2 separate regions of the Homo sapiens genome follow, and region 1 is linked to region 2. Evidence: fine-mapped expression QTL. A gene starts in region 2. The other region holds a variant in brackets. All regions are shown on one strand. Distances are between the middles of the regions.

Evidence for each region.
Region 1: its variant is fine-mapped to the expression of UBXN2B in lung (TOPMed, PIP above 0.99).

What each region holds. Positions count from the first base shown.
Region 1 is chr8:58,625,257-58,630,640 of GRCh38, reverse strand. All of the region lies in intron 6 of NSMAF (neutral sphingomyelinase activation associated factor), which reads left to right. Among named protein-coding and RNA genes, the nearest start is that of NSMAF, 32 kb to the left of the region's middle. The variant G/A (reference allele first, on the strand shown) is at 3,274.
Region 2 is chr8:58,409,159-58,414,542 of GRCh38, reverse strand. UBXN2B (UBX domain protein 2B) reads right to left here and starts at 3,182. Exons shown (of 8, transcript NM_001077619.2): 1 at 3,074-3,182. The coding sequence starts at 3,157. RefSeq lists enhancers at 2,737-2,786, 3,067-3,116, 3,127-3,186.

The DNA of each region.
Region 1 (5,384 bases), 220 kb before region 2:
GGGCTGTCACTTATATTACAGCTCTTTCCCCTAACAAATGCCTCTCGTACACTGCTCCCCTTGTTTTTGTTACAGCACCTCCACACATTGACAAAAGCCTTTGGGGGCAGTAGGAAACCCTACCCCCAAGTTGAGAACCACTCACCTGGGGTGCCCTTCCTCTAAAGGCTCTCGTGAGAGCCAGCTGAATTGCATACCTGCACATGGTTCATTGAAAGATTATGTGAAAGGAAATAAAAGTGAGGTTGTCTGAGTAAAGAAAAGCTCTTTTGTTCCAATGTGAATTATAATACCAAAGCATTCTCAGATTAAAAAAAAAAAAAGGGTGAGGTGGAATGACAGCAGCAAGATGGCAGAATAGGAAGTTCTAGCCCCTCCTTCCTCCTGTGAAGACACTGATTCAGCAACACATGGACAAATTCCCTTTGTGAGAAATCTGGAAACCAGTTAAGAGGATCCTGCACCCCCGGTGAGCATGAAACTAACCACATCAAAGCCGGTATAAAAATTTGTGTCACTATCTGGCCATCCTCTGTCCCACACAGCACCACATGATTGGGAAGAAATTTCCCAGCCTCTAGCTTCTCCCTGGAGAGGGAAAGAGAAAATTGGACTATACATCCAGAGTTCTGACTTTTCAGGGGAGCTGCCCAAGGGACTGGCTTCTGTCTCTTCTGTCTCAGAGTACAGATGGAACCCTGCATACTCTAGATGCCTGGAGCCACTGATAACAAAAGAGAGCTGGGTAGCACGCTACTGCTTCAAAGGACCTGTGGTACAGCAGACATCTAGACACGAGAGACAGCAAAGGAGTCCAAGCTTCTGAAAAAAATGAAACCAATAAATTTCTCTAATTAGGAATCTACATGCATAAGTCCAGAGAAGACACTTCCATAGAAAAGGTTTGAGAGGCCTCCAGCATCTCTAGCCAGGCTGATTAATGAAGGTCTCTTTCTCTGTATGAAGCCAGTCCTTAGAGACTGGAGAGGTAATTGTTTTTGTTGTTGTTGTTGTTGTTTTTAATGTGTGGATATTAGCACAAAATTAGAGGGAGCACAAAGAATCAGAGAAAAATAGTCCAATCAGAGGTACAAAATAAATTTTCAGAAACCAACCCTAAAGAAAAGGGGCTATATTAATTACCTGACAAGGAATTCAAAACTATTGTCATAAAGATGCTTAATGAGCTCAGGAAAATTATGCATGAAGAAAATGAGAATTTTAACAAAGAGAATATTAACAAAGAGAAAATATAAAGAAGAACTGAACAGAAATTTTGGAGAAGAATGTAGTAACTTAACTAAAAAGTTCACTAGAGGAGTTCAGCACAGACTATAAATCAGAAGAAAAAATCAGCAAACTGGAACACAGGTCTTTTGAAATTATCCAGTCAGGGGAGCTAAGAGAAAAAAGAATGAAAAAGAGTTAAGAAAGCCTAAAGTACTAATGACACACCGTCAAGTGGACCAAATACATAATATGCGAGTCCAAGAAAGAGAAGAGAGAGAGAAAGAAACAGAAAGTGTATTTAAAGAGATAATGGCCCCAAACTTGCCAAAACAGAGGAAGGAGATGGACATCCAGATTTAAGAAGTCTTCCACATAGGAGGACTTCAGAGATGTCCTTACCAAGACACATGATAATCAGATTATCAGAAGTAAGAGTTAATTTTGAAAGCAGCAAGAGAAAAGTGTCTGGTCACAGAAGAAAGCCCCCACAAAATGATCAGATTTTTCACCAGAAAGCTTGCAGGTCAGAAAATTGGATGATAAATTCAGAATGGTAAAAACAAAACCAAATAAAACAAACAAATAAAAATGCCTGCCAACAAAGAACACTGTATCTGGCAAATTGTCCTTGAAAAAAATGGAGAGATAAGGACTTTCCCAGATAAACAAAAGCTCAGAGTTTACCACCATTAGATCTGCTTTATAGGAAATGCTAAAGTGAGTCCTTCAATTTGAAACAAAAAGATACTAAACACCAACATGAAAGTGTAGGAATTATAAATCTTGCTGATAAAGGCAAATACAGAATACTGTAGTGCTGTAATGGTGGTGTGTAAATCAGTTTAATTCTGGTATACAAATTAAAAGACAAAAGTATAAAAACCCCATAACTAGAAATCTGTGTTAATGAATACACAATATAAATGGATGTAATTTGAGATATCATTAACATAAAAGGAGACAGGTATCTGAAGGAATAGTTTTTGTATGTGACTGAAGTTAAGTTGTTAACAGATTAAAAGAGATTATTATAACTGTAAGATGTTTTATATAAGACCCATGGTAACCACAGAGAAAATACCTATAGAAGATACACTAAAGAAGAGTTTTTCCAATATTATCATGTAGAATTTTTATGGTTTCAGGTTTTAGGTTTAAGTCTTTGATCCATCTTGTGTTGATTTTTGTATAAAGTAAGAGATAAGGATCCAGTTTCATTCTTCTACATGTGGCTTGCCAGTTTTCCTAGCACCATTTATTGAATAGGGTGTCCTTTCCCCACTGTATGTTTTTGTATGCTTTGTCAAAGATCAGTTGGCTATAAGTATTTGGCTTTATTTCTGGGTTGTCTGTTCTGTTCCATTGGTCTATGTACCTGTTGTTATACTAGCCCCATGCTATTTTGGTAACTATAGCATTGTAGTATATTTTGAAGTTGAATAATGTGATGCCCCCAGATTTGTTCTTTTTGCTTAGTACTGCTTTGGCTATTTGGGCTCTTTTTTGGTGCCATATGGATTTTAGGATTGTTTCTGATTGACAAAGGTATTTTGATGGGAGTTCTGTGAAGAGTGATGGTGGTATCTTGATAAGAACTGCATTGAATCTGTAGCTTGCTTTAGGCAGTATGGTCATTTTCACAATATTGATTCTACCCATCCATGAGCATGGGATATGTTTCCATTTGTTTGTGTCATCTATGATTTCTTTCAATAGTGTTTTATAGTTTTTCTTGTAGAGCTATTTTACCTCCTTGGTTAAGTATAACCATAAGTATTTTATTTTATTTTTTTTGCAGCTGTTATAAAAGGAATGGAATTGTTGATTTGATTCTTAGCTTGGCCGTTGTTGGTGTATAGCAGTGCTACTGATTTGTGTACATTGATTTTCTATCTGGAGAATTTACTGAATTCATTTATTAGATCTAAGAGCTTTTTGGATGAGTCTTTAGAGTTTTCTAGGTAAATGGTCATATCATTGGTGGACAGTGACAGTTTGACCTCCTTTTTTCCAATTTGGATGCCCTTTCTTTTCTGTCTGATT[G/A]CTGTGGCTAGGACTTCCATTACTATGTTGAATAGAAGTGGTGAAAGTGGGTAACCTTGTCTTGTTCCAGTTTTCAGGGGCGTAGGCAAAGAATTCATGACTAAGAACCCAAAAGCAAATGCAACAAAAACAAAAATAAATAAACGGGACCTAATTAAACTAAAAAGCTTCTGCACAGCAAAAGAAATAACCAGCAGAGTAAACAGACAACCCACAGAGTGGGAGAAAATTTTCGCAAACCACACATCCGGCAAAGGACTAACATCCAGAATCTACGAGGAACCTCAAACAAATCAGCAAGCAAAAAACAAATAATCCCATCAAGAAGTAGGCAAAGAACATGAATAGACAATTCTCAAAAGAAGACATACAAACAACTAGCAAACATATGAAAAAATGCTCACCATTATTAATTATCAAGGACATGCAAATTAAAACCACAATGAGGTATCACCTTACTTAGTGAGAATGGCCATAATTAAAAAGTCAAAAAATAATAGACGTTGGCATGGATTTGGTGAAAAGGGAGCACTTTTACACTGCTGGTAGGAATGTAAACTAATACAACCACTGTAGAAACAGTATAGAGATTCCTTAAAGAATTAAAAGTAGAACTACCTTTCAATCCAGCAATCCCACTGTCAGGTATCTACCCAAAGAAAAAGAAGCCATTATGTGAACAAGACACATGCACACACATAGTTATAGTAACACAATTTGCAATTGCAAAAATATGAAACCAACATAAATGCCCATCAACCAACAAGTGGAAAAAGTCCTATATATATACACCATGGAATACTACTGAGCCATAAAACAAAATGAAATAATGGCCTTTGAGCAACTTGGATGGAGCTAAAGGCCATTACTCTAAGTTAAATAACTCAGGAATGGAAAACCAGATTATTGTATGTTCTCACTTATAAGTGGGAGCTAAGATATGAGAATGCAAAGACATAAGAATTATATAATGGGGCCGGGTGCAGTGGCTCATGCCTGTAATCCCAGCACTTTGGGAGGCCAAGGTGGGCAGATCACGAGGTCAGGAGATCGAGACCATCCTGGTTAACACTGTGAAACCTGTCTCTACTAAAAATACAAAAAATTAGCCGGGCGAGGCAAGTGCCTGTAGTCCCAGCTACTTGGGAGGCTGAGACAGGAGAATGGTGTGAACCCAGGAGGCAGAGCTTGCAGAGAGCCAAGATCGCGCCACTGCACTCCATCCAGCCTGGGTGACACAGTGAGACTCCATCTCAAAAAAAAAAAAAAAAAAAAAGAATTATATAATGGACTTTGGGGGCTTAGGGGGAAGGATGGGGGTGGTGATGACGGATAAAAAAACTACATATTGGGTACGTACACTGCTTAGGTGACAGGTAAACCAAAACCTCAGAGAACTTATTTATGTAACCAAAAACCACCTGTACCACAAAAACTATCAAAATAAATTTTAAAAAAAATGAGGAGGAAATCAAACTATGTCATGATAAAATGTCAACACAAAGGAAGATAGAGGACAAAAGAGGACAAATGAGCTACAAGACAGAAAACAGTTAAAATGGCAACAGTAAGTCCTTCCCTATCAATAATTAAGTATATCAAACTCCCCAATCAAAAAATATGGAGTGCCTGAATGGATTAAAACAAATAAGATCTAAAACTATATGCCATCTGCAAGAGACTCATTTTCGGTTTAAGGACACAGATAGGCTGAAAGTGAAAGGATGGGAAAAAATATTCCATGCTTGGTAATCAAACAACAGAGCTAGCCATACTTATATCAGACAAGATAGGCTTTAAATAAAAAACTTTCACAAGAGACGAAGGATATTATGTAATGATAAAAGGGTCAATTTATCAGAAAGATAAATAATTACAAATGCATTAGTCAGGGTTCTCCAGAGAAACAGAACCAATAGGATGTGTGTGTACATACATTCACACATATATATACATACATACATACATACATATGCATATACATATATACAGACATATACACCCATCTAGGGGTATATTGCTGTATATATGTATATATACAGAGAGAGAAATTGATTTATTATAAGGTATTGAATCATGTGATTATAGAGGCCAAGAATTCCAGACCCAGG
Region 2 (5,384 bases):
ATTAAGAAAATGTTTCAATAATATGCAGAGGATAAAGTATGTAAGTAAAGTATTGATAATCTTTCCTCTAGAATTTGAAATGTGAAGAACTTGAAACCTGAAAGCAAAGGAATCGGGTGAGAAAATAAAGTATATAGCAAAATATTAAAAGTATTGGAATTCTCAGCCTTAGAGTAACCAATTCTAGACGCTGTAATAAATGATTATTATACAGACACCTGGGAACTTCTAGGAAATGCATATGCTTAAACTCTACTCTAGAACCAATGAATCACACTCTGGGGTAGGGCCCAGCAATCTCTGACAAGCCTTCCAGGTCACAGATGCATACTAGAGAATCAACGATACAGAATAATGACATTCAATATGATTAGGGTACTTGTGGCAACACAGTTATCAGAACAGCTATCAGACATTTTAATTCTTCTCATTTATAGTACCCACTATTGAGTCCATCCTAACAAATCCAATCCTAACCCTAACAATACTGAAGTTATCCCTGTTCCCACTCCCTCCCCGTCCAACCTATGTAGAAACAGATAATATGTGGAGGAAAACTGGGACAGAGTATACAACTAAATACCTTAATGAACATGTGTGTGGCGGGCTGAGGGACACCAGAAGAGAAAGCAATTCAGAAATACTATTGAACACTGGTGAGGTTTTGGGCTTAGTTTTGCCACTAACAATCCCACCCCTAACTTTCCCCATGACCATCTCCTTATTTGAGGGGGATGAAGGGAGCTATGAAAATCTACTCTGATATGCAAAAAAACATTTCCGAGTCTGCAGTTTGTAACCTGGGGGCTCCCAGGGCTGGGAGGCCTTTTGGGAAGCAACTATGCAGCTTTTCTCTGGTGGTACCTGGAACACTCCCTCCTGATTCAGATGCTGACAAACCCTACACTGCATGGCAGCTAAGATACACTTACTCAGGGGTAATTCTGCTTGTTCCAATTGGTAATATGTTGCCCCTTTACTCACTCTGAAAGACTCTTAGAGCAAGCTGTTAGGGAAGTAAGAAATATCTACTGAAAGCTGCACGAACTGCGTAACTCTTAAGAAAAGCATGTCTAGATTAAACGGTAACAAGATAATCTATAAATAATCAATATCCAAGGTACCATTTGGGAAGAACATTATTTAATTCTTTTAAACTTTTGATACATACTTTATTTCTTGATATGCCATCCCTTTGGCTGTTTTCAAGTTTCTTTGCAAGTTCTTCACATTCATATTAAGTTCTAAAGGAAAGATTATCAATACTTAGATACTGTACTTGATACACCAAATCACATTCATAAAGAAATCAGTTATCTTCCTACTGCCCTAACCTACAACAAGTAGACAGGAGATGAAAAAAAAAATCCCCATCATAACTTAGGGTGGAAATGAAGGCATTCTCACAATTAGCAACATCTACCAGAGTATCTCCAAACATTAATCGTACTTTGATCCACTGGATTAAGACTGCAAACAATTTGCCAAGAATCAGGTGGTCATTAAGCAAGCTGTTCTCACTTTTCACATAAAAAGAAGAAATGGATTTAAATTAGGGAAAGGACATTAAGTTACACACTCTATTAACTTTAATGATATTAGAATTGACTAGCCAGGGAAAGTTATAGCATCTTTCTCCTGAGGAAAAAGGAATCAAATATTTGCCCAGCAACAACTGAGCCAGGATAATGTAGGAATTTTGCATAGGCCCTTTATAACATTATTTAATCCTTACACCACCACCAGCACCCTGACCTTCCTCAGTTTACAAATGAAGACACAGGATCAGACAGGTTAAGACATTTCTCCTAAGTTCACAAAACTACTAAGTAGCAGGACTAAGAGGCAAACCAAAATTGGTGGGACTACTAACTCCATGCTGCCTCTTAGTGATGTGGGTTTATAATAGGAAAGATGAGGTACACAATAGCTTCCTATCCCTTGATACTGTTTACTACTACTGAACCAACTATGGGAGCTGGAACTATTCTACATTAAGTTCACCTCCTAATGTTACACTGATCTCTCCAGCCTCCAAATTCTTCGCTTTATGCACTGCTTATTTTGGCACCCAATCATACTCCATCTTAAAATGTTATGCTAAGTATTCATACCCTATTTCTCCGAAGAAATCTGTAGGCTTCCAAAAGGTAGAACTGTCTTTTACACTTACATACCTACCCATCAATAGAGTTCAGCACCGACTAAGGATTTGATGTCCTTATTTCCACATTCGCAAAGCTCAGCAGTATGTTACAATGGATGGTGGTTTGTTCACATTAGAATGAAGTGTGGTTGTAAAGTAATACAGTAAAACTGTTCTACCAAGATTCTCCTTAGTATCTCCTTACTGATATTTACTTGTCAAATTTTTATCAATAATCTTATAATGAGACACAAAAACGCCTAAAATGAGAAAAGTGGCGTTAGTATCTGATAAAACGGGATTTGGTGCGCTACTATTTAGCTAACTAATACTAGTGTCCTACACAACATTACGAAATTTTATTTCCCAGTTTCTTCAGTGCAATGTTTTAAAGACCACAGCTTAGACAACTAGGCTGTATGGGCATAGAGTGCATCGCTTTCCTTCACCCCTTTAAAAGAAAAACCTACCTGATAAAATGGAACCATTTTTATATTTAAGTAAGCAAGTCAGAAATAGCATCCAAGACAAAAAAGAACAAATCACGTATCATTACTGTTCAGGTGACTGTCTACTTCCCTGCGGCCACAGTAACCTTTCTTCTGGAGTAAGTCTCAAGAAGGAAGCATCAACCCGTGAACCGACCAACTGACCCCGCAAAATGTCATTCTAAACGAATAGCTATTTTTACATCATACGTGGGGTGGAAGGGAGACAAAGCACCAGCGCTGGAGGCTTGGGCACTTGTGTTCACGACCACCACAGTGTCAAGACCCGACATCGGGAGACCGGGCGCCGGATTCTATCCCCAGACGGGGTCGGGGAAAGGCTCCGCCGAGGCCAGAGGTGGCCTCCAACTCGCACCAGCCCGCGCCGTCACCAGCCCGCGTCCACCGCCGCGCTCCCTCCCCCGGCTCCTCGCCTCACCTGCAAATCCCGCGCGCTCGGAGGCCGCGGCCCGGAAGACCTCCTCTCCTGCTCGCCGGGCTCAGGGCCTCCGCCCTCCGCCATCTTCCGCTGGCTAGCGGCGCCCGCTGCGGACGCACCTGCCGCAACTTCCGGGGCCGGTTGCCTGGCAACCGCAGGAGGGGCGAAGACGCGCAAGGTGCGTGCGCGTCCCCGCTACCCGAACCCGCGCCCCCGCTTCCGGTGCTGGCCCACCTTTTTGGTTTCTCCTTTTTTCTTAAAGGGAGTTTCTCCGCAGGGAAACCTCTGTTAAGTTTTGTGTTGCTCCTGCTACTCGCCTAAAGGCACTGTAGGCCGCCCTAGAGGGCAGCATAGACTTGCAGATTCATTTAGCTCAACAATGAAAACATCCTCTGGATTTTTCATCTGATGAAAAATTGCAACCTCTCCATCTAGTCTTGGTCAGATTCTCTGATCTTTCCTATCAAGGATTGGATGGTACATCGTCACCACAGCGTGAATTAGCACTGAGAGTGAAAAACACCGTAAAAAGTGCTTGGAATAATTTGCTAAAAGCAGAACTCTGCCGGGCCTGTGGCTCACGCCTGTAGTCCCAGCACTTTGGGAGGCCGAGGCGGACGAGGTGATCGAGACCATCCTGGCCAACATGGTGAAACCCCTTCTCTACTAAAAAAAAAAATATATATATATATATATATATATATATATATACACACACATATATATATACACATATATACACACACATATATATATACACATATATATACATATATATACACATATATATATATATATATACACAAAAATTAGCTGGGCGTGGCGGAGCGTGCCTGTAGTCCGAGCTACTGGGGAGACTGAGGCAGGAGAATCGCTTGAATCAGGGAGTCGGAGGTTGCAGTGAGCCGAGATCGCGCCACTGCACTCCAGCCTGGCGACACAGGGAGGATCCGTCTCAAAAAAGAAAAAAAGCAGATCTCGAGACTATCAAGCCCTCGTCATTCAACTGAAATTGATTTAGACTCTGGTCTTCTTATCCTAGGCACTTTTTGTTTTTGAGACGGAGCCTCGCTCTGTCGCCCAAGCTGGAGTGCAGTGGCGCGACCTCGGCTCACTGCAGCCTCCACCTCCCGGGTTCAAGCAATTCTCCTGCCTCAGCCTCCCGAGTAGCTTGGACTACAGGTGCGTGCCGCCATGCCCGGCTAACTTTTGTATTTTTAGTAAAGACGGGGTTTCACCATGTTGGCCAGGATGGTCTTGATCTCCTGACCTCATGATCTGCCCACCTCGGCCTCCCAAAGTGCTGGGATTACAGGCGTGAGCCACTGCGCCTGGCCTCCTAGGCACTTTTATGCCCAAGGGATGCAAAGGTAAAAAGAAATAGTCCCAGTCATTATGAAACTCAGTCTAGTAGGGAAAAGAGACATGTAAACGGGTAAGATGCAGCTTGCAGTAGAGCTTTGCTTGGGAGGGTTACAAAGGAAATGTGAGCCATGTGAGGGGAAATACTCCGTTGGTATCTGCTGTGTGCACCATGCTAGGTGCTGGAGTCGACAGCTTGCCGCCCGAGCTTTGGCATACTGATCGTTTTGATGTATAAAGGCATTTGAGGCTGGGCGTCGTGGCTGACGCCTGTAATCCCAACTCTTTGGGAGGCCGAGGCAGACGGATCACTTGAGGTCAGGAGTTTCAGACCAGCCTGGCCAACGTGGTGAAATCCTGTCTCTACTAAAAATACAAAAATTAGCTGGGCGTGGTGGCGCGTGCCTGTAGTCCCAGCTACTTGGGAGGCTGAGACAGGTGAATTGCTTGAACCCGGGAAGCAGAGGTTGCAGTGAGCAGAGATGCACCATTGCACTTCAGCCTGGGTGTCACAGAGAGACTCCGTCTTAAAAACAAAAAACAAAAAACAAAAAAAAGCATTTGATAAACAGCAGGTGCAAGAAGAGCACTCTGACCTTTTCTTCCTGAAAGCAGGAAAAGAAACTACCATGTGATAGATGCCCTCCCTATACCAAGAGGAAAGATACTCATCACCAGAGAAGGGGAGTTGAGGCCGAGAAACATCTGTACAGATATTGTTAAACTAACCAGTATCTTCCTAGATACTCTTCCACGATTGCCTCTCTTTGTTCAACCTAGTATATAAGCACTTAGGCCTAGCCACTTCTTCGGGTGTTTATTTTCCTGTGAGGACACCCACTTATACGTAAAGTTTTATTAAATAAAATTTGTATGCTTTTTCCCTGTTAATCTGTTTTGTGTCCGTTTAATTCTTGGACCCAGCTGGAGACTCTGAGAGAGTAAAGGA